2 linked regions of the Homo sapiens genome follow. The protein of the gene in region 1 purifies or fractionates together with the protein of each later gene. This does not show direct contact. Each region holds a gene or a part of one and is shown in the gene's direction. Other genes may lie near its edges.

Region 1 (16,129 bases):
TAAATCTATATGGCTGTCTCTCTTGTTAAGATCTCAGCTCAAAGCATCCCTTCCTCTGAGAAACCTGACCCAACACCCAATCTAAAGTCACTCTTGGAGCTGGGCGTGGTGGCTCACACCTGTAATCCCAGCACTTTGGGAGACCAAGGCAGGCGGATCACTTGAGGTCAGGAGTTCAAGACCAGCCTGGCCAACGTGGCAAAACCCCATCTAGACTAAAACTACAAAAAATTAGCCGGGCATGGTGGCAGGCGCCTGTAGTCCCACCTGCTTGGGAGGCTGAGGCAGAGGAATCACTAGAACACAGGACGCAGAGGTTGCAGTGAGCCGAGATCATGCCACTGCACCCCATCCTGGGCAACAGAGAGTCAGACTCTGTCTCAAAAAAAAAAAAAAAAAAAAGTCATTCTCCAGTCACTCTGTATTAATCAGGATTCAGGTTCAGTGGATATAACAAAAGCCAAAATAATGATAGCTTGAGATGAAAATTTACTTCTAAGCAATCCAGGGCTGATATGTCAGCAATATGTTGTGAGGGGTCTCAGCTCTTGCCTTGTTCTGTCATCATCAACACATCTTGGCCTCCATCTCATGAACAAAGATGGCTGGTGCTGGGCACAGTGGCTCACACCTGTAATCCCAACACTTTGGGAGGCTGAGATGGGTGGATCACTCAAGTCCAGGAGTTTGAGACTAGCTTAGGCAACATGAGGAAACCACGTCTGTACAAAAAATACAGAATTATCTGGGTGTGGTCGTGCATGCCTGTAGTCCCAGTTACTCAGGAGGCTGAGGCAGGAGCGAGCCCAGGAGGTCAAGGATGCAGTGAGTGGTGATTGCGCCCCTGCACTCTAGCATGGGAAACAGCGTGAGACCCTATCTCAAAACCAAAACAAAACAAAAAAATGGCTGGGCCAGTTCCCATCATCAGGTCCTCTTTCCAGCCAGCAGGAAGAGAAGAGCAAATGGAGGGCATGACCCTTCTTTATAAAGTCATGACCCAAAAGTTGCACACATCATTTCTGTCTACACACCCTTGTCTCAAATTAGTCACATGGTCATGCCCAGTTGTAAGGGAGGCTGGAAATAGTCTAGTGGGCCAGCCATATGCTCAACTAAAACTCGGGAGTTCAGTTACTAAGGAAGATGGAGAGAATGGATAGTAAGGCAAATGGCCATTTTTACCTAATGGAGGTTCTTGGGATCACAGAAACAGTGGTCAGAATATTAAAGAAAAAAGATCCTTAGAGACTATCTAGTTAAACACTCTGATTTTATAGATGGGGAGACAGACCCAGAGAGGTGACCTGTCCAAAATTAGACAGCAATCTAGTCAGTGGCAGACCAAGGCTGGAATTCAGGTCTCTTAACTCCAAGCCCAGTGCTCAAAACTCGGGAAGGGGCTGGGCATGGTGGCTCACACCTGTAATCCCAGCACTTTAGGAGGCCGAGGTGGCAGGATTGCTTGAAACCAGGAGTTCAAGACCAGCCTGGGCAACAAAGCACGACCCCATTGCTACAAAAAAAATGTTTTTCAATTAAAAATAAAACTAGTGAAGGGATTCGTTTTAGAGGGACTTTAGCTTTATATGTATTATTTCTATTCATGTATTATATGTAACAAGGATATATTCATGTGTGGCTATGTAAATAAAAAATGAAAACTTAACCAATACATATATGAAAAGGTGTTATCTTCATTAGTGGAGAAAATTCAAGTTAAAACCGCAATGAGATACCACAATACATCCACAAAAATGCCTAATACTGGCTGGGTGCGGTGGCTCATGCCTGTAATCCCAGCACGTTGGGAGGCCGAGGTGGGCGGATCACGAGGTCAGGAGTTTGAGACCAGCCTGGCCAACATGGTGAAACCCCGTCTCTACTAAAAACACACACACACAAAAATAGTCAGGTGTGGTGGTGTGCGCTTGTAATCCCAGCTACTCGGGAGGTTGAGGCAGGAGAATTGCTTGAACCCAGAAGGCGGAGGTTGTAGTTAGCTGAGATCGTGCCACTGCGTTCCAGCCTGGGCAACAGAGGGAGACTCGAAAAAGAAAATGCCTAATACTAAAAGGACAATGGGACAATGTCAAGTGTTGAGAATGCAGAACAACTGGAACTCTCAGATATGACTGGTACACCCTTTCAAAATGCCTGGCTCCACAAGAACAAAAAAAAAAGAAAGAAAGAAAGAAAGAAAGAAAACAAAATGTCTAGCTCCAGCCTGGGCAACATAGTGAGACCATGTCTATACTAAAAAATAAAAACAAAAATAAAATTAGCGGGGCGTGGTGACACATGTCTGTGGTTCCCGCTACTTGGGAGGCTGAGGCAGGAGGATTGCCTGAGTCCAGGAGGTGGATGCTGCAGTGAGCCATGTTTGGCCTGCACTCCGGCCTGGGCTACAGAGGGAGATCCTGTCTGCAAAAAAAAAAAAAAAAGAAAAAGAAATGTCTGGCCCTATTTACCAAAGCTGAACATATGCATACCTTATGACCCTGTGATTCCACACCTAGGTATTACCCAACAGTATTTACCCAACATTACCTATGTTCATAAGACACATGTTCAACAGCATTCATAGCAGCATTTTATAATATATGTAATAAGGCCGGGCATGGTGGCTCATGCCTGTAATCTCAGCACTTTGGGAGGCTGAGGTGGGTGGATCACCTGAGCTTAGGAGTTCAAGACCAGCCTGGCCAACATGATGAAATCCCATCTCTACTAAAATACACAAATTATCCGGGCGTGGTGGCAGGCACCTGTGATCCCAGCTACTTGAGAGGCTGAGGCAGGAGAATTGCTTGAACCTGGGAGGTGGGAGGTTGCAGTGAGCCAAGATGGCGCCACTGCACTCCAACCTAGGCAACAGAGCGAGACTCTGTCTCCAAAAAAAAGAAAAAAGAAGTGTAATAAACAAAATTGGAGATAACCCAAATGTTCATCAACAGTAAAATGTGGTCTATTTATATAATAGAATATTAAAGGTGTGAGAATGGATTAACTACAACTACACATAGCAACACAGATGTATCAAACACAATTTTGAGCAAAAGAAGCAAGGCATAAAAAATACATGCTATATTATTCTGTTTATATACAGTTCAAAAACAAATAAAGTTTAACTATGCAGTTTGAAGTCAAGATAGTTACCCTTTTGGGTAGTAAGTAACTGGAAGTGGACAGGCTGTGGAGGGTTCTGGAAATTGTTCTTTTTCTTGGTCTGGGTGCTGGTTGCATGGGTATGTTCACTTTGGGAAAATTCACATTTTGCATATTGGGATACTGAGGCTCAGAGAGAAAAACAATTGAATGGAGAGCTCACAGACAGACAGATGGCAGAGCTGGGATCAGAACCTAAGGGGTTAGGTTTTCGGTGACCCTGAAAAGTAGACAGTATCAGACATTCTTGGATTCTGTGAAATGCAGTTGAACCTCTGGTCTCCCAGTTGCCCTTCCCACCCCCACTTCTGCTTCATGCTTATAACACAAAACCAGTTTTGCAAGTGAGTCGGGCTCTCTCTTGCAGGTCCAAAGTCTGTGACTCTGCACTTTGTGTTTCTTCCCAGGCCTGAACCCAGTGAACAGACCAACTTGGAACATAGGAGAAAGTTTTGTTTTTTTGTTTTTAAGAGTTGAAAGGAAGAAAATTAGGCCAGGCACAGTGGCTCATGCCTATAATCCCGGCACTTTGGGAGGCCAAGGTGGGTGGATCAGTTGAGGTCAGGAGTTCTAGACCAGTCTGGCTACACGGCGAAACCTCGTCTCTACTAAAAATACAAAAAATTACCCGGGCACAGTGGCGCACACCTGTAATCCCAGCTACTCAGGAGGCTGAGGCAGGAGAATTGCTTGAACCTGGAAGGCAGAGGTTGCAGTGACCCCAGATCGCATCACTGCACTCCAGCCTGGGTGACAGAGTAAGACTCTGTCTCACAAAAAAAAAAAAAAAAAAAAAGGGCCAGGCTCGGTGGCTCATGCCTGTAATCCCAGCACTTCGGGAGGCTGAGGCAGGTGGATCACCTGAGGTCAGGAGTTCAAGACCAGCCTGGCCAACATGATGAAATCCTGTCTCTACTAAAATACACAAATTATCTGGGCGTGGTGGCAGGCACCTGTAATCCCAGCTACTCGGGAGGCTGAGGCAGAAGAATCGCTGGAACCCAGGAGGTGGAGGTTGCAGTGAGCTGAGATGGCACCATTGCACTCCAGCCTGGGCAACAAGAGTGAAACTCCGTCTCAAAAATGGAAGAAAGAGAGAAAGAGACAGAGAGAGAGGGAGGGAGAGAGAGAGGGAGGGAGGGAGGGAGGAAGGAAGGGAGGAAGGGAGGGAGGGAAGAAGAAAGGAAAGAAAGAAAGGGAAGGGAAGGGAGGAGGGAGGGAGAAAGGAAGGAAGGAGAGAGAGAGAGAAAGAGAGAGAGAGAAGAGGGAGGGAGGGAGAGAAAGAAAGGAGAGAGAGAAAAGAGGGAGGGAGACAGAGAGAAAGAATGAAAAAAAAAGAAAGAAAGGAGGGAAGGAGGAAGAGAAAGAAAGAAAGAGAGGAAAGAAAGAAAATTAGATACATGTTTGTGTGCTGCTAGAAAACTGTGTCATAGCATAACCAAAACTGTCACCTCAGCAATCCCTGGGGAGTGAGATGGGGTGGGGAAGCCCTTCTCTCCCTGCCCCAAGGCTACTGCCCTTGTTCAGTAAGCAGGCTGAGGCCCCACACCCTTCTTTCCGGTTCCTCACCTGGAGTACTTTCCTTGATCTTAACCTGACAACCTCCTTCTCACCATTCAGATCTTTGTTCCTTCCTTGACCACCTCATCCAAAGAGATACCCTGTCACTGTTCATAAAATGATTGTTTTTACCGCTTCCACTTCTCTCTCTGAAATCACTTTGTTTATTTATCTACTCAATGGTTGTCTGCCCCTCCCATGCCCCATGCAGGCAGGAACCACCTTGTTTCCCACTGAATCCTCAGAGAAGGACAGGGGACACAGAGCCCACAGATGTTAGGTGGTCAATGAATGAGGTTGGGTGTTGGTGGGGGGCTGGCTTTTTATTTTGTACACGTTTGTATTTTGCATTATTATTATTATTTTTTGAGACAGAGTCTTGCTCTGTCACCCAGGCTGGAGTGCAATGCTGTGATGTCAGCTCACTACAACCTCTGCCTCCCAGGTTCAAACAATTCTTGTGCCTCAGCCTCCCGAGTAGCTGGGATTACAGGCACCTGCCACCATGCCCCACTAATTTTTGTATTTTTAGTAGAGATGGGGTTTCACCATGTTGGTCAGGCTGGTCTCAAACTCCTGACCTCAAGTAATCCACTGGTCTCGGCCTCCTAAAGTGCTGCAATTACAGACGTGAGCCACCACACCCAGCCTGTTATTATTTTTTAACAAGATGGGGTCTCACTTTGTTTCCTAGGCTGGTCTCATACCCCTGAGCTCAAGGGATCCTTCCACCTTAGCCTTCCAAAGTGCTAGGATTTCAGGCATGAGCCACTATGCCTAACCCTGAATATGTCTGTATTTTTTTTAATAGGAGAAAAAGCATATACATTTATTTGATCATAGTTTTTTTGTGACATGGGAGCCTTCAGAATGAAGAGCCACAGATACAGAGGAAACTGTCCATTTTTATGCTTAGGTTCAACGAAGTGTACATGGCCGTGTATGTAGGGAAAAGAGAGATCAGACTGTTATTGTGTCCATGTAGAAAAGGGAGACATAAGAAACTCCATTTTGACCTGTACCCTGAACAATTGCTTTGCCCTGAGATGCTGTTAATCTGTAACTTTGCCCCAACCTTGAGCTCACAGAAACATGTGTTGTATGGAATCAAGGTTTAAGGGATCTAGGGCTGTGCAGGATGTGCCTTGTTAACAAAATGTTTACAGGCAGTATGCTTGGTAAAAGTCATCGCCATTCTCCATTCTCGATAAACCAGGGGCACAATACACTGCGGAAAGCCGCAGGGACCTCTGCCCTGGAAAGCCTGGTATTGTCCAAGGTTTCTCCCCATGTGACAGCCTGAGATATGGCCTCGTGGGATGGGAAAGACCTGACCGTCCCCCAGCCCGACACCCGCGAGGGGTCTGTGCTGAGGAGGATTAGTAAAAGAGGAAGGCCTCTTGAAGTTGAGATAAGAGGAAGGCCTCTGTCTCCTGCCTGCCCCTGAAACTGAACGTCTCGGTATAAAACCCGATTATACATTTGTTCAATTCTGAGACAGGAGAAAAACCGCGCCGTGGCGGGAGGCGAGACATGTTGGCAGCAATGCTGCTTTGTTATTCTTTTCTCCACTGAGATGTTTGGGTGGAGAGAAGCATAAATCTGGCCTGTGTGCACATCCAGGCATAGTACCTTCCCTTGAACTTATTTGTGACTCAGATTCCTTTGCTCACATGTTTTCTTGCTGACCTTCTCCTCACTATCAGCCCGCTCTCCTATCGCATTCTTCTTGCTGAGATAGTGAAAATAGTAATCAATAAATACTGAGGGAACTCAGAGACCAGTGCCAGAGCAGGTCCTCCGTATGCTGAGCGCCGGTCTCCTGGGCCCACTGTTCTTTCTCCATACTTTGTCTCGGTGTCTTATTTCTTTTCTCAGTCTCTCGTCCCACCTGATGAGAAATACCCACAGGTGTGGAGGGGCAGGCCACCCCTTCACATGTAGAAACAGGATTGCACAAAACGCTAATAGACTGAATAGAGAAACCCACCAAGACCCATCTGTGTAGATTCTTCTTGGCCTCTCTGTGCAGTGTTCCTTCCTCCAGGGTATGCGGCAAGACCCTCTCAAAGGGGCCTGGGTGGTGGGGGCTGTCTTATGACCTGTCTTGCCTAAGGTCATAGTGCAAGGTGATGAGACTAAAGAGGAACAGAGCACAGGCACAGAAGTATCTCAAAGCTTCCCCTCCGGTACCTCCCCAGCCTCTTTGGCCCAAACCCCCTGGCTAGCAACATTCCTATAGTTCCTCAGTGTCTCTTTGGTTCGGAAAAAAAACTTTCTTGCCTGGAGGCCTTTGCATCAGGGGGTCCCTTAACCATCACTCAGATCCTTCCCCTCTGCATGGCCAACTCTCATATGTTTGTATTTTTTAGTTTTTTGAGACTAACATGCATTACATGCATACCTTATTTATTTATTATTTTTTTATTTTTTTATTTTTTTGAGATGGAGTTTTGCTCTTGTTACCCAGGCTGGAATACAGTAGCCTGATCTTGGCTCACTGCAACCTCCACCTCCCCGGTTCAAGCGATTCTCCTTCCTCAGCCTCCCAAGTAGCTGGGAATACAGGCATGAACCACCTCGCCTAATTTTGTATTTTTAGTAGAGACGGGGTTTCACCGTGTTGGCCAGGCTAGTCTTGAACTCCTGACCTCAGGTGATCCACCCACCTCAGCCTCCCAAAGTGCTGGCATTACAGGCGTGAGCCACCGCGCCCAGCCAACATACATTACTTTTGCAAACAAAGATAAAACTCTTTTTTTATTCTTCAAAAGAATAAAAAAGCTCCCTGGTGGTCTAGTGGTTAGGATTCCAGGCTCTTACCACAGGGATCTTTTTTTTTTTTTTTTTTTTTGGGGACACAGTCTCGCTCTTTGCCCAGGCAAATATTGTGCAGTGGCAGAATCTTGGCTCACTGTAAGCTCCGCCTCCCGGGTTCATGCCATTCTCCTGCCTCAGCCTCCCGAGTAGCTGGGACTACAGGCACCTGCCACCATGCCCGGCTAATTTTTTGTATTTTTAGCAGAGACAGGGTTTCACCGTGTTAGCCAGGATGGTACCACAGGGTTCTTAAAAACAAAAAGAGGCCAGGTGCGGTGGCTCATGCCTGTAATCCCAGCACTTTGGGAGGCTGAGGTGGGCGGATCACCTGAGGTCAGGAGTTCAAGACTAGCCAGGCCAACACGGCGAAACCCTGTCTCTACTAAAAATACAAAAATTAGTTGGGTGTGGTGGCACACACCTGTAATCCCAGCTACTGGGGAGTCTGAGGCAGGAGAATCGCAAGAAACTGGGAGGCGGGGGTTGCAGTGGGCTATCGCGCCACTGCACTCCAGCCTGAGCGACAGAGGGAGACTCCGTCTCAAAAAAAAAAAAAGAGAAAGAATAAAAAAGCAGGTTACTGCAGCGGACTCTACCCTCACCAAGTTATCTTGGATTTAACAAGTTTCCAACTGAAAGCAATTCCCTCCAATACCAACTGGGGACCCTGAGACCAGAGAGGGGCTGGGCCTTGCCCAGGTTCACACAACACTAAGCAAGCCAGGCTGGGTCCCAACTCCCCTCCTCCCACTCAACCTGGGTACTTCTCGGGGGTTTCCCGATCCAAAGGAGGCCAGGAGCCGGGGTTGGGGATGGGGAGCGGAGACAGCGGTGAGGAGCGGCGGTGTGGCGGGCAGGGGGTGCGCAGACAGGGCGGAGAAGGTGCTGGTAACGGGGGCTGCGGAGCGGAAGGGTGCGGGCTGGGGAACCTCAGAGGGTGCGGGGAGGGAATAAGGGGCGTAGATGGTGCAGGGTAACGGAGGCGCGCAGTGAAGGCGGGTGACAGGGGCGCAGAGAGGTGCACAGTGAGACGAAGGAGGGAGAGGGGACGGCGAGGGCGACGGGAGATGGGGCGGGAGAGGGCGAAGGTGAGGGGGATAAGGGCGGGGACGGGGCGGGGACAGAGGCGGGTCGGGATGGTAGGGAGGGGCGGCCCGCGCGATCCCCGCCCCACCGCCCGGCGCTTGCGCACCTCCGCCCGAGCTCGCGGGCCTTGCGGCTGCGTTTTCAATCTGCTTCCTTGTGAGTCAGGTGGGTCCTGGGCCCAGGAACCGGCCCGGAGCCGTGGACGCCCTACAGCTGAGAAGGGGACCCAAGGGGTCGGCCGCGGCCAAGGCCCCTAGGACCGCCGCCCCAGCTCACGCTGCCGACGGCAGCTATAGACATTCTGCGTCAGGTCCGGGCTCCTGGACTTCGCCTTTCCCGAGCCCTGGAGGTGGGGAGAAAAGGTGAGCAGTTCGTGCCTGCAGCGCAGAGCCCCAAACCCGCGGTTTTAGAAATCGAAAAAGCCCTGCCGGGCGCGGTGGCTCACGCCTTTACCGTAATCCCAGCACTTTGGGAGGCCGGGGGGCGGGGTGGGGCGGGGGAGGATCACGAGTTCGGGAGTTCGAGACCAGCCTGGCTAACATAGTTGAAACCCCGTCTCCACTAAAAATACAAAAATTAGCCAGGTGTGGTGGCGCGCGCCTGTAGTCCCAGCTACTCTGGAGGCTAAGGAAGGAGAATCGCTTGAATCCGGGAGGCGGAAGTTGCAGTGAGCCGAGATCGCACCACTGTACACCTGGGTGACAGAGTGAGACTCTGTCTCAAAAAAAAAAAAAAAGAAAAAAAGCCGGCCGGGTATAGTGGCTCACGCCTGTAATCCTAACACTTTGGGAGGCTGAGGTCGGGAGTTCGAGACCAGCCTGGCCAACATGGAGAAACCCCGTCTCTACTAAAAATACAAAAAAAAAAGGAGCCGGGGATGGTGGCGCATGCCTGTAATCCCAGCTACTTGGGAGGCTGAGGCAGGAGAATCGCTTGAACCTGGGAGGCGGAGGTTGCAGTGAGCCGAGATCGCGCCATTGCACTTCAGCCTGGGCAACAAGAACGAAACTCCGCCTCAAAAAAAAAAAAAAAAAAAAAAAAAAGCCGTGGGTCAGGAGCCAGAGCCCTCTGCTCTAGTCTTAGCTGTGCCAATGTGACTCCCTGTGTGATTTGGGGGTAAATTACTGCCCCTCACTGGGTCTCTGTCTACCCACCTGCAAAATGAGAGGATCTTTGGATGAGTCTCCTTAATTCATTTCCTGGACAAACTTCCTCCAAGGCTCCCCCAGATTTACCAGTGACGCCCTTCCCTAAGTATCAACTTAGCCGTACTTTGAACTCTGGCCCCTCAGGTTTCAAGGGGACGGCCTTGTCTGGGATCAGCTCTGTCTGGGGAAAGAAGCTGCACCAGCCTCTGGATAGCAGGCTGAGTCACTTGTTTCTTGTGCCTTGAGTCAGTTCTCTCATCAGCTCTCCTCCTAGGCCAGTGTTATTACCTCCAGTAAAGATGGAAAAGTTGGGGTTCAGAGAGGGCTAGAGACAGACAGCCTGCTGTGTCCTGTCTTTTCTCCTGTGCTGTACAGGTTCACCAATTTTTAAAATCCAAATATATCTCATGGTACAGTGGAAGAACTGGCCAGAGAGTCTGGAAGTTTGGGTTCTGGTCCTGGCTGTGCCACTGACTCACTGTGACCTTGGGTAAGTACCTGCCCCTTTCTGGCTCAGTCTACTCTGCCCAGCAGCCAAGATATCGTTCATATGCTCTGCAAGGCCCCTTCTGTCTTTGACATCCCTAATAATGATAATAGCAATCATAATAATTGTGTCCTGTGTGCCAGACAGCTGGCCTCTGTCTACTTGCCCTGCCTCAGGGCCTTTGCACTTGCTATTTCCACTGACGGGAGCACTCACCTACCTCTGCTTCTTGCACATTCATTCTTCTGATCTCCATTGAAACTTGACTTGCAGGGCTGGGAGTGATGGCTCATGCCTGTAATCCCAGTACTTTGGGTGGCCAAGGCTGGGGGATCACTTGAGTCCAGGGGTTGGAGAGCAGCCTGGGCAACATAGTGAGACCCACCCCGCCCCACCACCCCACATCTCTACAAAAAGTTCAAAAATTAGCCGGGCATGGTGGCACGTGCCTGTAGCCCCAGCTACTAGGGAGGCTAAAGCAGGAGGATTGACTGAGCCTGGGAGATCGAGGCTGCAATGAGCCATGCACTCCAGCCTGGGAGACAGAGAGAGACCCTGTCTCACAAAAAAATTAAAAAAAATAAATAAAAAGAAACTTCACTTGCTTATGACATTCCCTAACTACACAGACTAGATGCGGTCCCTGGATTTAGATCCTTACGGTATCTATTGACTTCATTATATTTAAGTGTTTGTATAGTTCTTTGCCTAATATCCGTATCCCTGTTCTTCAGTGCCTGTAAATGCCCTAAGGGCTGGAAATCTATCCCATATGCTAGCAGCTAGCTCAAAAAGGTGCTCAGAAATTTGTTGTGGATTCAGAGTGACTTTCCTAGGGTCACACCATTGGCAGCACCAGAATTTGAACCCAGTCTGTCTGATGTCAGGGCCTGAGCTTCCACCTTACCTGCTATTTTTCATTCTAGGATCTTGTGCTGTGAAGACATTTCCCAAGTGCTTCATGTTAGCCAGCAAATCTGACCCACAAGGCCTGGAAAGAGGTGATTGTTAGGTTGCGCAGAGGTGGTCTTATCCAGCTCAGCTTCCCCTGGGACCCACCGTGGGACCTGAGGCAGAACTGGGGTGGACTTGGCCTCCTCCATGGCACACCGGCTGCAGATACGACTGCTGACGTGGGATGTGAAGGACACGCTGCTCAGGCTCCGCCACCCCTTAGGGGAGGCCTATGCCACCAAGGCCCGGGCCCATGGGCTGGAGGTGGAGCCCTCAGCCCTGGAACAAGGCTTCAGGCAGGCATACAGGGCTCAGAGCCACAGCTTCCCCAACTACGGCCTGAGCCACGGCCTAACCTCCCGCCAGTGGTGGCTGGATGTGGTCCTGCAGACCTTCCACCTGGCGGGTGTCCAGGATGCTCAGGCTGTAGCCCCCATCGCTGAACAGCTTTATAAAGACTTCAGCCACCCCTGCACCTGGCAGGTGTTGGATGGGGCTGAGGACACCCTGAGGGAGTGCCGCACACGGGGTCTGAGACTGGCAGTGATCTCCAACTTTGACCGACGGCTAGAGGGCATCCTGGGGGGCCTTGGCCTGCGTGAACACTTCGACTTTGTGCTGACCTCCGAGGCTGCTGGCTGGCCCAAGCCGGACCCCCGCATTTTCCAGGAGGCCTTGCGGCTTGCTCATATGGAACCAGTAGTGGCAGCCCATGTTGGGGATAATTACCTCTGCGATTACCAGGGGCCTCGGGCTGTGGGCATGCACAGCTTCCTGGTGGTTGGCCCACAGGCACTGGACCCCGTGGTCAGGGATTCTGTACCTAAAGAACACATCCTCCCCTCTCTGGCCCATCTCCTGCCTGCCCTTGACTGCCTAGAGGGCTCAACTCCAGGGCTTTGAGGCCAGTGAGGGAAGTGGCTGGGCCCTAGGCCATGGAGAAAACCTTAAACAAACCCTGGAGACAGGGAGCCCCTTCTTTCTCCACAGCTCTGGACCTTTCCCCCTCTCCCTGCGGCCTTTGTCACCTACTGTGATAATAAAGCAGTGAGTGCTGAGCTCTCACCCTTCCCCCACTAACCAGCTCCTAGCCTCTGCCCTCCCTCATTCTCATTCACACCTGTGTCCCTTTTCCACTAGGAGTCGACTTCACATCCAAAGGATTCACAGAGGGCCCCACTAGCTTCAAAACCAGGCACTTTCAAACTTGGTTTTAGCAGCAGAGTCCTTTAGTTATGGGCGATCTGAAACCCCATTATGCAAAACTAAAAACAGACCCTGAAAAACTGCTGGAGTTGAAGCAGAGGTGCTAAGGTCTCTCTTTCAGCTTCTGAAAATACCCTCTGGAAGCCTGGGGTCAGTGCTTAGTTTGAAAAGCAGGATGCTAAGCCATTCTGTAGGGACACTGTCCATTAGCACCACATAGTATGAAGGGGAGAATTTAAACAAGGAACCCCATGACAGTCATGAGAAGAAATCCTGTTGACATATGCCTGCCCCGTGTTAGGTAAGGTGCTGAGTTACCTCCATGCACATATAACCCTCAAAGCTACCTCGTTGGGCCTAGGTGGTTTGACCCCCTCCACAACTTTACAAATGAGGAAACTGAAATTCAGAGGTTAAGCAGCCTGCCCGAGGTCACAGCTAGCATGCAAAGACACCAGGATTCCATTTAGGCACATCTGAATCCAAAGCCCATTGGCTTGACCACTAGGTTGTAAGTAGATGAGGATGCTTGTCATGTGAAACGTGGTACAGTGGAGATTCTGGGAGAATAGGGGAGGTGTCCTAAAGAATATCAATCTCAAAGGGCACCCCAGTCGCAGAGACCAGTGTGGAGGTAGGAAAGTATGGGGAACAAGGACTGCAGTGTAGGGAATAGGTTTGGAGGGAGGGGGGAAGAACTGGAGGTTGAAGTAGGTTGGGTTTTTCAATTCCTTTTTTCACTTTAGGAGGCTGAGGCAGGAGGATCACTTGAGCCCAGAGTTCGAGACTAGCCTGGGCAACATGGTGAAACCCCATCTCTTCAAAAAATGTAAAAACTAGCCTGGTGTGCTGGCACACACATTTAATCCCAGCCACTCGGAAGACTGAGGCAGGAGGATCGCTTGAGCCCACAAGTTCTGTTACAGTAAGCTACGTGCCACTGCACTTCAGCCTGGGCAACAGAGTGAAACCCTGTCTCTAAAAACAAAACAACAAAAAGTTCTCCTGCCTCCCCACCTTCCCACACCGTTCTACTTGGTATTTGCTGGACATCTGTGTTCCTTGCCCAGTGCCAGAGGATACCACACATTAAAAACACAGGCTGGCAGTGTGTTCTGGTGCCAGCAGCTAGGGAGGGCTCTAGAATGGATGCTGAATTCAGTAGTGGCATTGGGGGTGGCTTTAGATGAGCAGGGGGATGAGGAGGACATTGCTGCAGCAGGCCGATGAACTGTGGAATGAAGGCTGCTGTGAGGAGCTGGGTTGGTGGATTGGGAGAAAATGGCATGGGGGCCTTCAGGTGCCAAGAAAAGCCTTGGCTTTGACCCAGATTTTTGAGCAGGGGCTGTGCCCAGGCAAAGGCAGGGAAGATCTCTTTGGGACTTGACCAAACCCCTTTTGGTCTGTTTTCCTTGGGACTGGCACCAAGGCCAGGCAACAGTAATTTCGTTGTTTTTTTTTTTTTTGAGATGGAGTCTCGCTCTGTTGCCCAGGCTAGAGTGCAGTGTTGCGATCTCGGCTCACTGCAACCTCCGCCTCCCAGGTTCAAGCAATTCTCCTGCCTCAGTATCCCGAGTGGCTGAGATCACAGGTGTGCACCATTATGCCCAGCTAATTTTTTGTATTTTTAGTAGAGATGGGGTTTCACCACATTGGCCAGGCTGGTCTCAAACTCCTGACCTCAGGTGATCCACCTGCCTCAGCATCCCTTTGAGACTCTGTCTCAAAAAAAAAATTAATAAACAGTGGTTTTCAAACTGCTCTGCAGCTCCCAAAGAAAGTGGGGAGGGCTCTGCCTTTCATCTTCTTTGGACGCAGGAGCCTAAAGTTGTAGGTAAGATTACTTTTGAAGAGAGTTCCTGGACAAAAGTTTGAAGACCACTGTTCTAGGGTGAACTCCTCATGGAGACAAACATAAAGGGACTTGCCTTGGGTCTTGGTAATGTCTCCAGGCTCTTTCCGCTACACTGAGCTGCGACCCACTTATTTCCGAGAATGCAATAAGGGTATGAAGACAGGCCAGCGTACAGTATACACCCAATTATCAACAAAGAACATGGAATAAATCTTCAATGCTTTTAAGACCTTTAATAATGCCCACGTGCCCTAAGGTTGGCCCTCTTAACTCCCTCAGCTCTTTCTGGCTTTAAGCCATCACCCCAGGTGTGCAGTTTATGTCAGAGGGGGCCATCAGGTAGGGAAACTTATCAGCTGCTCTAAGAGAAAAGGCCGTCCCTGCTATTATCAGTGGGCACAGGCTGGAGCTCAGCCAGCAGGGGCTACAGTCGGGTTACCTGGAGACATGATCCCCTGGTCCTCTGAGGGCCTAGGCAGGACATGGGGGAGGACACGGTCCCCCGGGACAGAGTCCTCTGGCCAGGAGCAGCCTTTCAGGTTGCTCTTGTGTGCTAGAAAAAAATATTTTCTCTATGTGCCATGTCATGAAAAAGACAAAAGCACTGAGTTAATGGGATGTGGAAACTTTAGCCACAGGCTTCTCTGCCTGTGAAGAGAGCATTTCTGCATGTGAACAGCTGGAGCAGGAGGCTGAATGGCAGTGCTTCTCCAGAGACCACAACATCCACCCAGTCACCTGTCCACCTACATTCACCTATCCATCTATCCATCCACTCACCTGCCAAATATTTATTGCATGCTCACTATGCACCAGGCACCATGCTAGATGCCAGAGACAAAGTGAAGACACCCTCAGAGGGGCAGATGCATGGTGGATTTGGGAGACTAAGGCCCAGGGAGTAGTAGGTTCCCCACAGGTACCCAGCACTCAAAGCAGCAATCTCCAACCCTTTGAATGCAAGGACTTTTTTGCTTATCTGTGGTGGCAGATATCACAAAAATTATACACAGACTTTTTTTTTTTTTTTAGCTCATCAGCTATCGTTAGTGTATTTTATGTGGCCCAAGAAAATTCTTCTTCAAATGTGGCCCAGGGAAGCCAAAAGTTTGGACACCTGTGATTTACAGGTTATGCCTAGATCTGAAACAGATCCCCATCCCTCCTAAAGCTGCCCACTGGTTATGGGCCCTGTTTCTCTTAGAAACACCACACACATCATTTGGGAAAAGCACACTGAGTAGAAACATGGCCTGAAAGGGTGGTGGGCGGTGGACCTGGCTTCCTGTGGCCAGAGGTCAGCGGACGATAGAAATGGTCTGATCGGCCACAGCAAAGACTGGGAAGAGGGGCCCCGGGAAGGACACATGATGGGCACAGAGCACTGTGCCGGAGGCTGGCTCATAGAAGAGCAGCTCCTGAACCTGCAAGTCCAGCACTACACCCAGCTGGGCTGGGCCCCGCAGCAGCCCCAGGGGCTCGTGCTGCCCATTGTGTGAGAAACGAAACTCCTGATCATAGCGAGAGAAGACCCAGGAGAAGGCATTGTGGCCCAGACGGCAGTCACTGCCAGAACCCTTGCGGGGCAGGTGGCCTGAAGCCACGCCCACCTTATAGGCACAACTGTTCTGGACATTCACCATCCAGGCATGGAGCCCATTCTGGAAGGAGGTGGCAGCCAGGGCATTGGGCCAGTGGTCGAAGCGCTCCGGGCCATCTGCACAGGCCTTTGACTTCTTGGTGCTGAAGGTCAGGGTCTTTCGATCATCTGACAATTGCAGGAAGGGGCTGACTGTCCTCTCATCGATCCGTATGTCCTCTGTGCCTGCCAGAAAGAATTCTCAG
Region 2 (15,681 bases), on another chromosome or scaffold:
AATTATATATTTGGAATATCTATTGGCTTACAAATATATTAGTGAACTTATAGAATAGTTTCAGACCATTTTCAAAATTAACATTTTAAAAGATAATTTATATCCTTATGTGTTAAAATAAAAATTTATATTACATGAACATTCAGCATGAACAATTATTCCTGGTGCATATTCACATGCTTGAATCAGTTTCTTAGCTGTATCTTTTAACACCTTGATCCTGATAATTTTCTGAAAAAAGTTAATAAGATCTTATGCTTTGTTTATTTTTTTTGAGACAGAGTCTTTCTCTGTCACCCAGGCTGAGTGCAATGGTGTGATCTTGGCTCACTGCAACCTCCGCCTCCTGGGTTCAAGTGATTCTCCTGCCTCAACCTCCCGAGTAGCTGGGACTACAGGTGCATGCCACCACGCCCAGCTAATTTTTCTATTTTTAGTAGAGACGGGGTTTCACCATATTGGTCAGGCTGGTCTTGAACTCCTGACCTCGTGATCCACCCGCCTCGGCCCCTCAAAGTGCTGGAATTACAGGCGTGAGCCACTAGGCCCGGCCCTTGTGCTTAATTTTAAAATTAAATTTTCTGCAATTTTCTTAACAGTTGCAAATAGAATCTTTGCTTTAGACAATGGTTATTTTAGTTTTAAAGGTACTGTCTCTATAGATGCTGAAACACCACATAAACTGCTAAATGGAACAGTCTTAATTCTACATTTTGCACATTGAAATGGGAAGATATTTTAGCCTAAATATTTTCACAGGTGCTATGTTGGTGTATCTTTTCAAAGTACTTTTCTTTGACAAATATTTAGATAAAAGAAATAAGTTGTTTTTGTGTATGATTTTAAAAATAGTTTACCATATTTAGATAGGGGAAAATTAAAGTTTTTCTCAATTGTATTCCAATGTTTTACAAAATGGTAATTTATTCCAGGAAATTTTATTCAACAAAAAATATGAGTTCCATCAGAAGATTATTCTCAGACATTGAACTATTTAAAATTGCTATTATAGATGTATTTATTTACTAATTCTGCTGTATACAAAGTTCCACAAACTAGCTAGCTTGAAACAGCAGAAATCTGTTTTCACACTGGAAACAGTGGAAGGAGGCTGGAAGTCTGAAATCAAAGTATCTGTAGGCCCACACTCTGTCGACTAGCTTCTGGTTATTGCCAGCAGTCCTTGGTGTTCCTAAGGAGTTTGCAGCTGCATAACTCCAGTCTTTGCCTCTGTTGTTAAATGGTTGTCTTCCCTCTCTGTCTTCACTTCCCTTTTTATGTGTCTCTGTGTCTTCTCTTGTAAGGACAGAAATTAAAATTACTTGTGCATTGTTTGAGCTATGATTTTTTAAATTAGTTTACTTCTTCCCTTCCTTTTGAAGAGATAAGGTTTCTGTTTGTAAGCTTTGGTTTCACTGATTACAATTCACTAAAAACTTTAAATCTGAAGGTGTCCCTACTCCCATTTGGTCTGTTTGTTGAATATGTTGATTAATAATGACCAACAACTTTTGAAAAAAATGCAACAAGTGTTGCCCATCCCAGTGCCAGGCCAGCCCCCACAGACACAGCTTGTAGGCCAGTCCTTGCAGACCCAGGCTCTAGGCCTGCACTAATGCCAGGGCAGCATCCAAAGATTCCAGCTGAGCCTCTGCAGACTTAGGCATCAGGTAGAAACTCATGGACCCACACTGTAAGCCTGCCCCAGTACCAGGTCAGCTTCCATTAATTCAGGTCCAAGCCTATCCCCAGGGACCCAAACTCTGCACCCAACCCCATGGTTCTAGGTACCAGGTCTTCCCCTGCAGATCTAGGTACCAGGGCCATTCCAGAGGACCCTGGGCAAGCCTAGTCCCCACAGACTTGGGACCAGACCCATTCCAATGCCAGGCTGGTCCCCATGGACTCAGGCTCAAGACCTACCCCAGTGCCAGGATGGCCCCTATGAACCTAGGCTTCAGGTCTGTATTTGCAGACCAAGGCTCCAGGACTACTCCTATATACCCAGTTGACAGCCCACCCCAGTGGACCCATGCACCGGATTAGCCCCCTGTGAGTTGAAGCATTAGGCCCACCACCTGCTGACCTAGGCATCACCTGCCAACTAATCCAAGGGCTTTAGCAGCAAGCCCACCCATGGGCCATGCCGGATGGCCCATCAAGAATCTCTAGATCCACTGACTGGTGAAGGGCTTTCCCTGCTGAAGCCAGTTTAGAAAGACTGGAATAGGCGCCTACTTCTTCAAGCGATAGACAGCAATGAAAGGCCACAGGCTTGTGAACCATTAGGGAAACCTGGCACCACAAAAAGAACAAAATTAACAATAATTGACATAAAGAAATGGAGAGCTACAGGCTGCCTATCCAGAGAACACAGGTAGACAACTAGACAATATCAGTGATTTAAAATACTACAAAAGGGTAAAAACCAGGTACTGTGGGAGCTCACAGCAGATTCCCAGGGTACAGGGTTGGGAAAACATCACAAGAGTGTTTTATAAGCTGAGACTTGAGCAATGTGTGGGACAGACTTGGCAAAGTGGTTGGAGAGGTGAGAAAGGGAAGGAAGAGTGTTTCAGGCAGAGGGAATATTATATCTGAAGATCTGGAGAGAACATGGTGCAGTTCATGAATTAAAATATGACTGGTGTGTAGTGCGCGACTCACTAAGCACAGTGTTCTTTAACAGTGAGGCTAAAGTAGCTCATGCAGAAGTGTGTAACCCATAGGGGATTGGGATTTTAGTTAACTTTTTCCCCCAATTTCTCAGGTCAGAAATGTTAGAGTCATGTTTGCCTTCTGTTTTTCTTTTTTTCATATCCTACACCCAATCTCAGTAACTCCCAAGGGTTCCACTCTCAAAATAGATTCAGAATCAGACTACTTAGCACCTCCATGGCTACCCCTTTGCCTAACTCCCCATGATCCCTTGTTTGTTATACTACACTAGCTTCTTAGCTGGAGTCTCCACTTCTCCCCTTGATCTCATAGAGTCTATCCTTCATATTTTCACCAGTTATTTTAAAAGTGAAAGTCACGTCAAAATCTCTAAATGGCTTCGTGTCTCACAGTAAAAGCCAACATCCTTTCAAAGGCCTGCAGGGCCTTATATAATCTGATGTCCCATTCCTTCTCTGACTTCATGTCTTACCCTAGTTCACTTGTTCTTTCCACTGCAACCATTGGCCTCTTGCTATTCCTCAAAGATTTCAGGTATGCTCCTTGCTAAAGGCCTCCATACTTGTTCTTCCCTTCCCTTGGCCTAGAATGCTTTTCTTCCAGAAATCTACATGACTCATTTCATTCATTTCTGCCCACGTGTCACCTGATTTATCAGAGAAGTGATATCTTAACCCACCTATGTAAAATAACTCTGGCCCTCAGATAAGTCCTTTCTCTGCCTCATGTTACACATATTAAATACTTGTTGTTTTTCAATTTGCTTATATCTTCTTCAACTAGAATATAGTTTCCATAAAAGTAGGTAATTGTTTTGTGCCCTATTATTTATATTCCCAGTGCCCAAAATAGTTTTCAGCACATAGGAGACTTTCAATATATATTTGTTAAGTGAATAAACAATGAGCATGTGGTGGGGAGTTTTAACCAGGGAGGTGCTGTAATTAAATTAGAAAACAATCACTCTGGCTGCAGTATGGAAAATGGATTAGAGGAGATCAAGACAAGCCGGAGAGAAATTTTAGGAGATGTATTATTCAGGGGCTGAACATTTGAATTGTTGCTGATGTTTAACCTTTTTAGCTTTTCAAGAATTTTCATGTTGAAAAATCTAATTTGTTTATGCACTAAAGTAATGAGAATGTGTGAGTTGACTAGTTCTTCCAGCACATGGACCAATACAGGCACTCTCTCATTGGACCTGCATTAATTTGAGGTTGCTTCATTTTGCCTCTTACAGTGACTCCTACAGAGCTAGGCTTGCTGAGTCTCTACGGTGACTGATGGAGTCAGTTGGAGGGGCCAGTTGCTACTGAAAATGCTCAGAGACCTAACTCCTAATTTACCCATAAACACCAGCTAGCCAGGCTGTATCATGTCTGCTGTAATTAGTTAGCGAGCTGACTTAGCACCTCAGTGCTATAATTTAAAGTAAACCCTGAACAGTCTTAGACTTGAGTATGCACGGTACAGTTAAGTTTAATCTGTATACAGGTTGTCTCTTTGGAGTCTGGGAATCAGTTTATGCTATTGGTCTTCTCTGACAATCTCCAGGTCACGCAGATTTGTACTGTCTAGGACATAATTAGCCTAGATTATACTCAGTGATTGCCAGCTTCACAGTGGCCTGTGAACAAATTATTTTGTTTAATGTGAGTGAATCAATAATGTGTCAGCAGTAGCATCACTACTCACATGCTATAAAATGCAAGACAGAGTTCAGATGTTTTTATATTTTAAAATAGAATGTATATTCCTTACTGTGTTAGGTGATTACTAGTTTTTTTAACAGATGAATCTGCTTCTATAATAGTGTTCTACCCCAAGAAAATATTGCTGACACAAATTGATTTATGGAAAGTTTTATTTGCTACTACCTATAAATGAGTTGTGCTGGAATTTGTTGCTGTATCTGCAGTTCTTAGTATTTGCTAATATAAAAGATCCTTGTTATCTTAGTGCCAAAAGGCTACTTAAATGAATTCATAAAATATCCTTACCAGAAATTCATAGGAAACAGTGAAAAAAGTTTGTTACTTTACTTTGAAAAATAAAAACCTCAAAAGTTTTATTTTATTTTAACTTGATTTGCTTATAATTACATACAAAGTATTGGAAGGTACAAAGCACAAGCTACAAAAATCACTCAAGAAATATTAGATAACCTGAATTGCCCTCTATATTAAGGAATTTAAGTTTGTAGGTTTAAACCTTCCCAGAAAGAAAACCCCAGAATCAGATAGCTTCATGGGTGAATCCTACCAAACATTTAAGCGAGAAAAAAATGCCAATTCTTTACACACTCTTCCGGAAATTTGAAGAGGATAGAATTCTTCCTAACTCATTCTATGAAGCTAGCATCATCCTGGTATCAAAGCTACATGATAACATTATAAGAAAAGAAAACTACAAACACCTCTTATGCATGTAGATGCAACAATTTTAACAAAATTTCAGATGAAATCCATGATAGTCTGGAAAGGATAGATACATAATAACCAACTGGGATGTATCCCAGGAATGCAAGTTTGATTTAACATTTGAAAATTGATCAGTTACCATATTAACAGACTAACACTCGAGAAAAACATATGATCATCTCAATAGACATAAAAAACACTTGGCAGTAGCCTCATACAAATTCTCACCAAACTAAAAATAGACATAAATCATAAACTGAATGTATAACTTAGGCCCATAAAACATCTAGAAGAAAACGCTGGAGAAAACCTTTGTGACCTTGAATTAGGCAAAGATTTCTTTTATACAACACTAAAAGCATGGTCCATAAAAGGAAAAAATAATAAATTGGAGTACATTAAAATTAAGAACTGTTCTAAAAACATGAGAATAAAAAGGCAAAGCACAGACTGGGAGACAATATTTCAAACCCCATATCTGATAAAGGACATGAATCTAGGATACACAAAGAACTTTAAAAAAACCCAAATGTCCAACAACGAAAGACTGGATTAAGAAAATGTAGCACATATACACCATGGGCTACTATGCAGCCATAAAAAATGATGAGTTCATGTCCTTTGTAGGGACATGGATGAAACTGGAAACCATCATTCTCAGCAAACTATCGCAAGGACAAAAAACCAAACACTGCATGTTCTCACTCATAGGTGGGAATTGAACAATAAGAACACATGCACACAGGAAGGGGAACATCACACTTCGGGGACTGTTGTGGGGTGGGGGGAGGGGGGAGGGATAGCATTAGGAGATATACCTAATGCTAAATGACAAGTTAATGGGTGGAGCACACCAACATGGCACATGTATACATATGTAATAAACCTGCACATTGTGCACATGTACCCTAAAACTTAAAGTATAATAATAATAAAATTAAAAAAATTCAAAATAGGAAACAACCTACTAAACAATGGGCAAAAGACTTAATTATTTAATTCACTAAAGAAGATCACAGATGGCAAATAAGCATATGAAAAGATGTTCAACATCAGTATTCGTTAAGGGAATGCAAATTTAAAGCACAGTGACATACCACCATATGTCCACTAAAATGTCAACAGTTTTAAAACCTGACCATCTGAAGTGATGACAAGTATATGGAGCAACCAGAACTCATATAGTGTTTGAAGGAATGCAAAGTTGCAAAGTGGTACAGTGTTTTTGTAACGTAACAGTTTTTAACGTATTTAAACATACACTTACGATGTGACCTAGCCATTCCCCTTTGAGATATTTGCTCAAAAGAAATTAAAGCGGCCAGGAGTGGTGGCTCACACCTGTAGTCCCAGCATTTTGGGAGGCCAAGAGGGGCAGATCACTTGCAGCCAGGAGTTCGAGACCAGCCTGGCCAACATAGCGAAACCCCGTCTCTACTAAATATACAAAAATTAGTCAGGCATGGTGGCATATGTCTGTAATTCCAGCTACTCTGGAGGCTGAGGCATCAGAATCATTTGAACCCAGGAGGCGGAGGTTGTAGTGAGCCGAGATCTTGCCACTGAACTGCAGCCTGGGTGATGGAGACCCTGTCCCCCACAAAAAAAATATTTTAAAGCATATGTGTACAAAATATATTAAAGCATATGTGTTATAAAATGTTTGTAACAGCTGTATTTGTCATGATCAAAAACTGGAAAGAACCCGAATATCCATTAATTACAATCGAATGGATAAACAAATATTGGTATATCCATACAATGTAATACTACTCAGCAATAAAAAAGAAATGAACCATTCAAACATGCAACTATGTGAATCAATTAAAAAATAATTATGCTGAGTGGAAATAGCTGGCCAAAAAAGAGTATGTAGTATTTGATTCAATTTTTATAAAATTATTCATAATACAAACCAATATATACTGAACAAAAGAGGTCAATGGTTGCCTGGAATGGTGAATTGAGGAGTGGAATCTGGCAGAGACAGGTGGAATGGCAAAATTTTAAAGGTGCACCTGGAAAGTTTTGGGAATGATAGACATGTTCATTTTCTTGACTATAGTGATGGTTTCTCAGGTATATACATATATTAAAACTTAAACTTGTACATGTTAAATATGTCCAGTTTATTATATGACAATTATACTGAATAAATCTTTTACAGAAATAAGACAGCAGAACAAGATTATTATATTGAATTCATCATGACATTTCATGTCTTGAAAGCTATTAAAATTTTAATGAAGAGTAGACAAAATTAGAATCAAAAGTAGAGTTTACTTAGAATGTCTAGTTGTGATTGTATTGTCTAACCAATTTGCTCAGTTATTTACTCATAAATTATGATTGTTATTAAAATACACTTTTATGGTAAACTAAAGTGGTTTTCAAACATGGTCATACACAAGAATCACATGTAGGAAATTATTAGACATGCAGATTTCCAGGTTTTTCCCCTGCCCCCAGGAATTCTGAATTGTAGATGTGGATTGTGGGGTCTGGGAATCTGCAATTTCAGGCAGTTTTTGATGTGTGTATCCATAGACCACGCTTGGAATTGCTTCTTAGCAGAACATTGTTTACATCAAAATTGCATGAACTGAGATGAATGCAGTGGAAGACTGGTGCCATGCTATAATGGTGTATTTTCGATCAAGTTCTACCTATACGTCCACAAACCTGCTAGAGAGAGCAGTTGACTTATTTGGAAGGAGCACAAAGTTTGCATTTTGTGTGTTGTCGGATATTTATAGCACCCGCCCTCATTAGAAAATTAAAAGTGTACAGATACCACAAAGAATTAAGGTTTATAAGGGCTTCCTTTCCTCCTCCTCTTTCTCTTCTGCTTCTTACTCTTTCCCTTTTCCTCCTTTTCATAATATTTATTTACCTACATTTGATGTTTTTTGTAGTAATCATGTTTTTACCGGGCCATTCAATAATGAAAGGACAGGGGCAGAAGGAAGAAGGGACCACCTTCTACTTTATCAGATACCTTTAAAAAAATAAACACACAGTAAGAGCAATGTAATTCACCACTTTCAAGTTTGAGGTCATGGAGAGCAGAAAAGCCTTTCTAGAAAGTATTTCTTTGTGCCTTTCCAGAGATAGTTTATATCATCTATCAAATTATGGCACTTCTTACCTTCTGAAATACTTATAAACTGCCAGGAAGTAATCTTCTGTGGAAACTTACTCCATTAGAAATGATGCCATTGCATTGGGAAGGAACTAAACTATCGGTTTACTGACCTGATCCCCACCATAATCAGTGACAAGCATGGCAAGACTCACAGCTGTTGTCCGGGGCCATGCCTGGGGCCATGGAATAACATTTTTCTTTGAGTAAGTTAAAAGAGTTGTGTAGTATGAAGCTCATGACTTCAGAGTCTTGTGCTGGATATGCTAACCAAAAACGAACTGATTTCGCCTTAGGGTCACAAGATTGTGGGGCTACGTGTATACATAGTGGAGTCCAGTCTTCAAGATGGTTGCCAGTTTTAACTAGGCTGTGCTGATTGATCTGCCTCTTTAGAAAAAATAGCAGAACTTTAAATTTAGGCAATATTATAGTCCAGATCTTGAGTATGTGGTTTGATAATTTATATGAATACATAAATGTGTGTATATGTATATACATATGTATGCATATGTGTATATAATATATATGTTTTATATATGTATGTGAAAGTTGTGAAGAAATGTACACTGTCGTTAGCATCTTAGTCTATTTGAGCTGCTATAACAGAATACTGTACACTGGTTGGCTTATACAAAAACAAATGAATTTCTTATAGTTTTGTAGACTGGGAAGTCCAAGGTCAGTACACCAGAAGGTTCAGTGTCTGGTGTGGGCCTGCTTTTTGGTTAATAGATAGCTGTCTTCGTGCTATGTCCTCACATGGCAGAAGGCACAAGGGAGATCTCTGGAATTTCTTAAAAGGACACTAATACCACTTATGAGGGCTCTATCCTCATGGTGTAATCACCACCCAAAGGACCTACCTCCTAATACCATAACATTTGGGGTTAGGATTTCAACATAGGAATTTTGAAGAGACATACACATTCATTTTATAGCAGATAGATTATACTGTAGAACTAAATAACAGAGTTGGAATCCTTCACAAAATTATAAAATATTTATGAACCTGAAGAGTAGGTGTCACTATAATTGAAAAAAAAATCAAATTTTGGGTGCTTGGAGAATCATGGTGGTTTTATTGAGTTTTGTACCTTAAATTTGTGCAGTTGAGTGTTTCTTATTTTCTTTTTAGTATTTATTGTTTTGCTTTCCACAGACATGAAGCCATTATTATATCAGGAACCGAAATGGCCAAGCATATCCAGAAAGAAATACAGCGAGGTGTGGAATCATGGGTTTCCCTTGGAAACAGAAGACCTCACCTCAGTATAATTTTAGTGGGAGATAACCCAGCAAGCCATACATATGTCAGGAATAAGATAAGAGCTGCCTCTGCTGTAGGTGGGTGTGTGTTTTAGTTGTAATTACTACTAAATATGTTTTCTGTTTTTACTTCAAATTGTGATAATTATGAATGATAATTATCAAATAAGTGCCATTTGAATTGCATGTATTATTATTAAAGATTATTCAGTTACCAAAGCTTATGTTAATTTCATATGATTTTTCTTCAAATTTCTTATAGGGTTAATTCAGTGTGTTTTATATTCTATGGCAAGATATGCAAAGGATAGTTTGCATCTAAAAGGCCTGCTTTCATTATATTTGCTTTAATCAAATAATAAACCTGGCTTGTTCACTCTGTTAAACTTGGCCTAATAGTTGCATGGTAGTGATATTTTTATTCTCTTCAAATCTACTAACAGTAGCTTATCTCAAACAAGTACAAATTGTCACCTGGCATTCCAGGCCAAAGAATACATGTGGATCAAGAGGAAACACCTGTACTATTGGAGAAATCCTTCCTGATGATGCATGGAACATCAGAACCTTTCACGGCAGTAGGAACAGTCCCACACTGTGTCAGACACTATTGATGAAAAACCATATTCAGTTAGTCAAGTGACCTTCTCTACCTGTTTTTCTTCTAGGTATTTGTAGTGAGCTCATTCTAAAACCTAAGGATGTTTCTCAGGAAGAACTTTTGGACGTAACTGATCAATTGAATATGGACCCAAGAGTCAGCGGTATATTAGTTCAGTTACCACTACCAGGTACATAATGCTCCTCTTATTTATCTGATTTTGTTAAAAGTGAAACAAAGGGCATCTTTCAACATCATATTATGATACTGCAAGTAATTTATAAAATACATTCAGAAGGAGACTAGCTATTTTACTAGTAATAGGTGTAATAGTGATTTCTGAATGATTTGTGCTTACATGGACAAAATCCTTGAAAGTGAAATATAAGCATTGGCAATACATACACTCCTTGCTTTGCACAGTAGTATGGGTCTCTAAAAATGACGATGTAAGATGAAACCAGGTAATGTGATCTTAATAATCAAAGGTAAAAATAACAATTTTTCTGTGGCCTTTAAAACTTCTTATCCAAGCATTGAAAACTCTCCTACTGTGGTTCATAAATGTATAGGGAAATGAATAATTAGTAAAACTAAGCTAATGTTTTTTAGTACACTCTAATTTAAAACATTAGAAACATTGAGAAAGTGTATGATATCTTTGCAAAAGCTCGTCAAAAGTAGTTGGAGCAGTGTTTGTCTTCTGTCTAATTCTATAACTTATCATATGGAATGGGCATCTTTTCTATGTCTTGGTGAATTGAACTGTTATATTCCTTTCAAAGTTTAGATTAGCTCCCAGTATTTTGTCTATTCTACTTTCAATGTTGTGAAATTTCTCTGAGAGTTCCTTAACATTTAAAGGAATTTCAGTATGAAGTTTCACATTGGCGTCACTTCATCTGAGATGTTGTTGTCTTTTTTATTACGATCACTTTCCTCGTTTGTGTGATGGATTCACCCTCATTAAGTTCCTCTGGCTGCGTAACTACGTCTCTCCAAAGGATTCAGTGTCAGCATTCTATGGTCAGCTATTTCTCCTACAACTCCATTTACATTAAATTAGATTCCTATTGAAATGACTTTGTTTTTTATGTTTATCAGGCTTTTTCAACATAAGACTTACCTTCGCTTCATGCGGGCCTAGGTTTCTCTTGTCTTTGTTTGCTGTTGTTCAGATCTTCTACTTACATCCAGTTTCCATCCCAGCATTATCACATTTTGTTTCTTTGCTATACTTTCACTTTTATAGGCTAATCCCCTCTGTCTGTTATCCACTTTTGTAAAATATCATGTGGGTTTATCTCTGGGAAACATGGAGAAAACAACACTTTGCCATCGATGTTTGATGATTGTAAATGTGCAGTGACCAATCATTTGAAAGAAGTGCTATGACTGGTCACTGATCATCATCTCATCTGTTATTTCTGTAGTGATCTGTGGACTAAAGAGCTAGCAGCTCTTGTATAATTACTATGAAATTTGAAATGTGTTATTGGAGGACTAGTATTATTTAACTGAATTGTTGTTCTGAAATTTGTGCATATTTAAACTGCGCAAAATGAGGACTGCAGGTATAGTATAGGTTACAGTAGCTTTGTAGTTTTGAGTTCTGTAAGCTTTGATTAACAATCGTGATGTGCAAAAAGTAAAGCTATATAATGCTATTATATGGGATCTTTATGTGGTATTAATATTTTTCTTTATCCAGCAATATAATGTAATATCTTACTTAGCATATGTTATAGCTTTTGTGCTGTTTACATTATATCAAAAATTCATACTTCTAATTCTTTTCCTCCAATATAGCTGCACTGACAAAAATCATCAAGTTAATAAGAATCTCAGAAGCTATCAGTTTTCCCCCTGAGAAAAATGCTCTGGCAGATAATGCTTACATTAATGATGTTAAAGTTAGTATAGTGATAGTATCACTTACCTTTAAAACTAGAAAAAAAATTCAACACGTGCAGCACTCTTATATCATAGGAAAATGAGATCTAGAGAAGATCAGGAGTTTATTAACATCACAAATCTGTCCAAAAAATTTTAACAGTGTTTCTCAATTGTTTGACTCACTCACAATGAATCTCCTGTTGGTACTGTATTTATCAAGCAATCTTCTTATAGTTTGCAGTTTTTGAAATTTTCTCTACTTGGCATTTCTACGACATTTCAATAACTGTATAAACATGTCACAACATTAATTCTTAAAATGTCCATTCTACACAAAATGACCTGAAAAGACATTTCTTAAGAGAAGACATACAAATGGCCAACAGGTATATGAAAATGATAAACTTCACTAATTATCAGGGAAAGGCAAATTAAAACCACAATGAGATATCACCTCACACCTGTTAGGATGGCTGTTATCAAGAAAATGAGGTAAGTGTCAAGGATGTAGAGAAAAGGAACCCTTGCTCACTGCTGTTTAGAATGTAAATTGGTACAGTCATTTTAGAAAACAGCATGACAGTTCCTCAAAAAATTAAAAATAGAATACCGTATGATCAAAAAATTCCATTTCTGTATATATATCCAAATGTCATGATATCAGTATGTCAAAGAGATATCTGCACTCCTAAAGTAATGCTGCACATTGCAGCATTACTTTAAGATACATAATCAACTTTAGTGTCTATCAGTGGCTGAATGGATAAAGTAAATGTTGTTGTATATATACACTATGAAATAAGAATCAACTTTTTAAAAGAATGAAATCCTGTCATTTGCTATAACATGGAACCTGAAGTGTATTATACTAAGTAGAATGAGCTAGGCACAAAAAGAAAAACCTGCATGATCTTACCTGTAGAATTTTTAAAAGTAAACTCATGGAAACATAGAGTTAATGGTGGTTACCAGGGACTGAGGACTGGAGAGGGGATTGTGGAGATGTTGGTTAAAGGATACAAAATTTTAGTTAGACAGGAATAAGTTGTGGAGGTCTATTGTACAACATGGTGACTTAGCTAATAACAACATACTATATACTTGCAAATTGCTGAGAAAGTAGATTTTAAATGTTCTCACCACAAAAATACATATCTTGACTTAGCTGTTTCATAATGTATACATATGTCAAAACATTGTACACCACACATATCTACAAATTTTTCTTTGTTAATTTAAAAGTATTAAAATAGTCATAGTTTTCAAAGTACATTACATTTAGTTTGTCACAGATTTCTAACTACGTTGGATTTTATATCTGTAGAAATTTTACCCCTTTTGAGCAACATTCCTTATTTGGTGAATTTATTAGCAGCTCGCTGCTAGATGGCACTGGTGATTTGTCTGTATTAAATACTAAATTGCCTGAGTCCTGTGCTAGAGACTAAATTGTTTGAGTGTCTCAAACAGAGAGTGTGAGAAGCATAGAGCTAAAGTGACCACAGTGATTAAAAAAAAAAATCTGGATGTTCTGAGAAAGGGCAGTTTTCTATGTAGCCAAAAAGCCAATAATGCCAAAATTGTGGCTAACATTTATTACATTATGACACTTTTGTATGCCATTTATATTACAAATGGCACTTTGTATTTATTAACCCATTGGATCCTCACAATAATCCTGTGAAGCTGGAGCTATTATATATTTTTTACTGATGAGAAATTTGAGGCGTGAAGAGGGTAAGTAACTTCTTCCAAGTTCATAGAGTTGCTAAGTAACTGAGTTGGGATTTGAATCCGGGCAGACTGGCCCCCATGCCAAGAATACTCTTACCGATTATGTTAGCACCCTCACTGGCACATCAGTGTTATCTAGTGAGTCATGTGTGCTTACTATGTGGCAGGCACTCCCTTACCTGGATTATTTTATTGAATCCTACAAACACCCTTATATGATAAGAATTAACTTCTTCATTTTATAGTTAAAGAGACTGAGACACAGGGAGGTTAAGTGAATTGACCAGTATTACCTGTTAGTAAATGGTAGAGCCAAGACCCAAACCCAGATCAACTGATTTCAGAGCCTGCCTTTTAAACTTCTTGTTACGTTTTACTGTCTCTCAGAACATAGTAAGGCATAACGTAAGCACATATATTTCAAACATTCACATACAAGTTCCTAGCACATGTAACCACCAAGTTGCTGATCGTTTGGTTTCCCTGTTTCCATACTTATAACCTATATTTTTTACGATTTTTACCTTGCTCAATAATGGTATTCCTATTTTTATTCATAATTTCTTTTTGGTAAGGTTTAAAAATGATAGCAATGGGATTAAAGACATATTAAATATACTATTCCTTTCAAAGTAGCCTCCATTTTAGTAATTGCACTTTGGTACATTTTTGCTAGCAGAAGATATTATTCAAATATGGGTATATACAGTCTGAATTTATAATGTGGCTTTGTGATTTACTGACCGTTACTTAACTTTGATGAGTCTTACTTTCCTCATAAAAAGAGAATTGAAAATCGATCTTTTATACTACATATTGGGAACATATAGTTTGTTAGTTAATAGAAAAAGTTGGTTAAAGTAGAAAATTGTAAAACAATGCATATGTACCTTAAACATTGTGTTATGTAATAAATAATTTAAATATTCATTCATCAATCTTTAACATAGATTAAAAGCTTTCTGGAGCCCACTGATTGGACTTCTGCATCATCTTCTGGCATTAATAATACTTATAATTCATTGCCTGTAATTTTCAGGTTGCGGTGTAACAGTGAAAATTCATCTAGATTTTCAAAATGTCTCCCAGTCTTCAAAGTCGCCTTGCTGTTACCTAAGTCATACTAATGCTTTTTAGTTCTTGAGAGTCTTTCCAGATCATTCAGCTTAGTTTTCTTACAAATAAGAACTGTTCCCTTTTGCACTCCATTGTCATTTATTTATATCATTTTTACCTATGTTATAGAATTTACTATGAAAAAACTGGCAAAGACAGGCTGGGAAATACAAAAATTGTCTCTTGGTTATGAAACTCAACTGATAGGGTTAGGAATAGTTTATTAACTATTCTCTGATATGTCCAGCAAGGGCTGGACATCAGCCTTCATGTTTTACAGAATAAATGGAGCTCATTAGTTATTTTGATAGATTGGCTGTATAGAAGTAGATGAATACAGCCTCTCCTATGTATATCTCATAAGACTGTTATAATGAACAAATTAAACAATAAGCAAATGAAAAAATGAATGAGTCTAGTTGATTACACCTTCAAGCTTAATAATATAAAATTATTTTCTATAATTTGGTTAGTAAATGTGTATTTCAAATTATTTTATCATTAGAAATCTGAGATTTCTCACAATTATGGCAATGTCTTGAGTAAAATAAATTCCAAGTTAGAATTATAATTCTAATGTTTGAAGACAGGTTTGCATAAGAATTAAACAGAATGTGCAGGGAGTTTCCATGCATCTCATTTGAGCAACAAGCAAAGAAATGAGATAGAATTCTGTCCTGTTTAATGGTACTGGGACTGTCACAAGCTAAGCCTTGTTTATGTTCAGAAGCTGTGCAACTTTGTTCAGGATTTGAAATGCTCGGGATATAAGAGTACACAGGCTTGCTCTTTGTCCAGTAGCTGACCCTAAAGCTAAGGAGAAA

The links.
Region 2: the proteins of HDHD3 (region 1) and MTHFD2L purify together in Homo sapiens (affinity purification with mass spectrometry; 2 studies listed by BioGRID and IntAct, with this or other methods). This does not show direct contact.

The regions. Positions count from the first base shown.
Region 1 is NC_000009.12:113,369,596-113,385,724, reverse strand, and holds HDHD3 (haloacid dehalogenase-like hydrolase domain-containing protein 3), read left to right. Parts: upstream 1-8,738; 5' UTR 8,739-8,996; intron 8,997-9,124; exon of another isoform or gene 9,125-10,157; 5' UTR 10,158-10,272; intron 10,273-11,195; 5' UTR 11,196-11,370; coding exon 11,371-12,126; 3' UTR 12,127-12,303; downstream 12,304-16,129. Other genes in the region: BSPRY (B box and SPRY domain-containing protein), read right to left, coding at 15,583-16,109.
Region 2 is NC_000004.12:74,165,103-74,180,783, forward strand, and holds part of MTHFD2L (bifunctional methylenetetrahydrofolate dehydrogenase/cyclohydrolase 2, mitochondrial), read left to right. Parts: intron 1-6,675; exon of another isoform or gene 6,676-8,382; coding exon of another isoform or gene 8,383-8,447; intron 8,448-9,403; coding exon 9,404-9,588; intron 9,589-10,178; coding exon 10,179-10,301; intron 10,302-15,584; exon of another isoform or gene 15,585-15,681. UniProt on the Homo sapiens protein: Bifunctional mitochondrial folate-interconverting enzyme that has both NAD/NADP-dependent methylenetetrahydrofolate dehydrogenase and methenyltetrahydrofolate cyclohydrolase activities.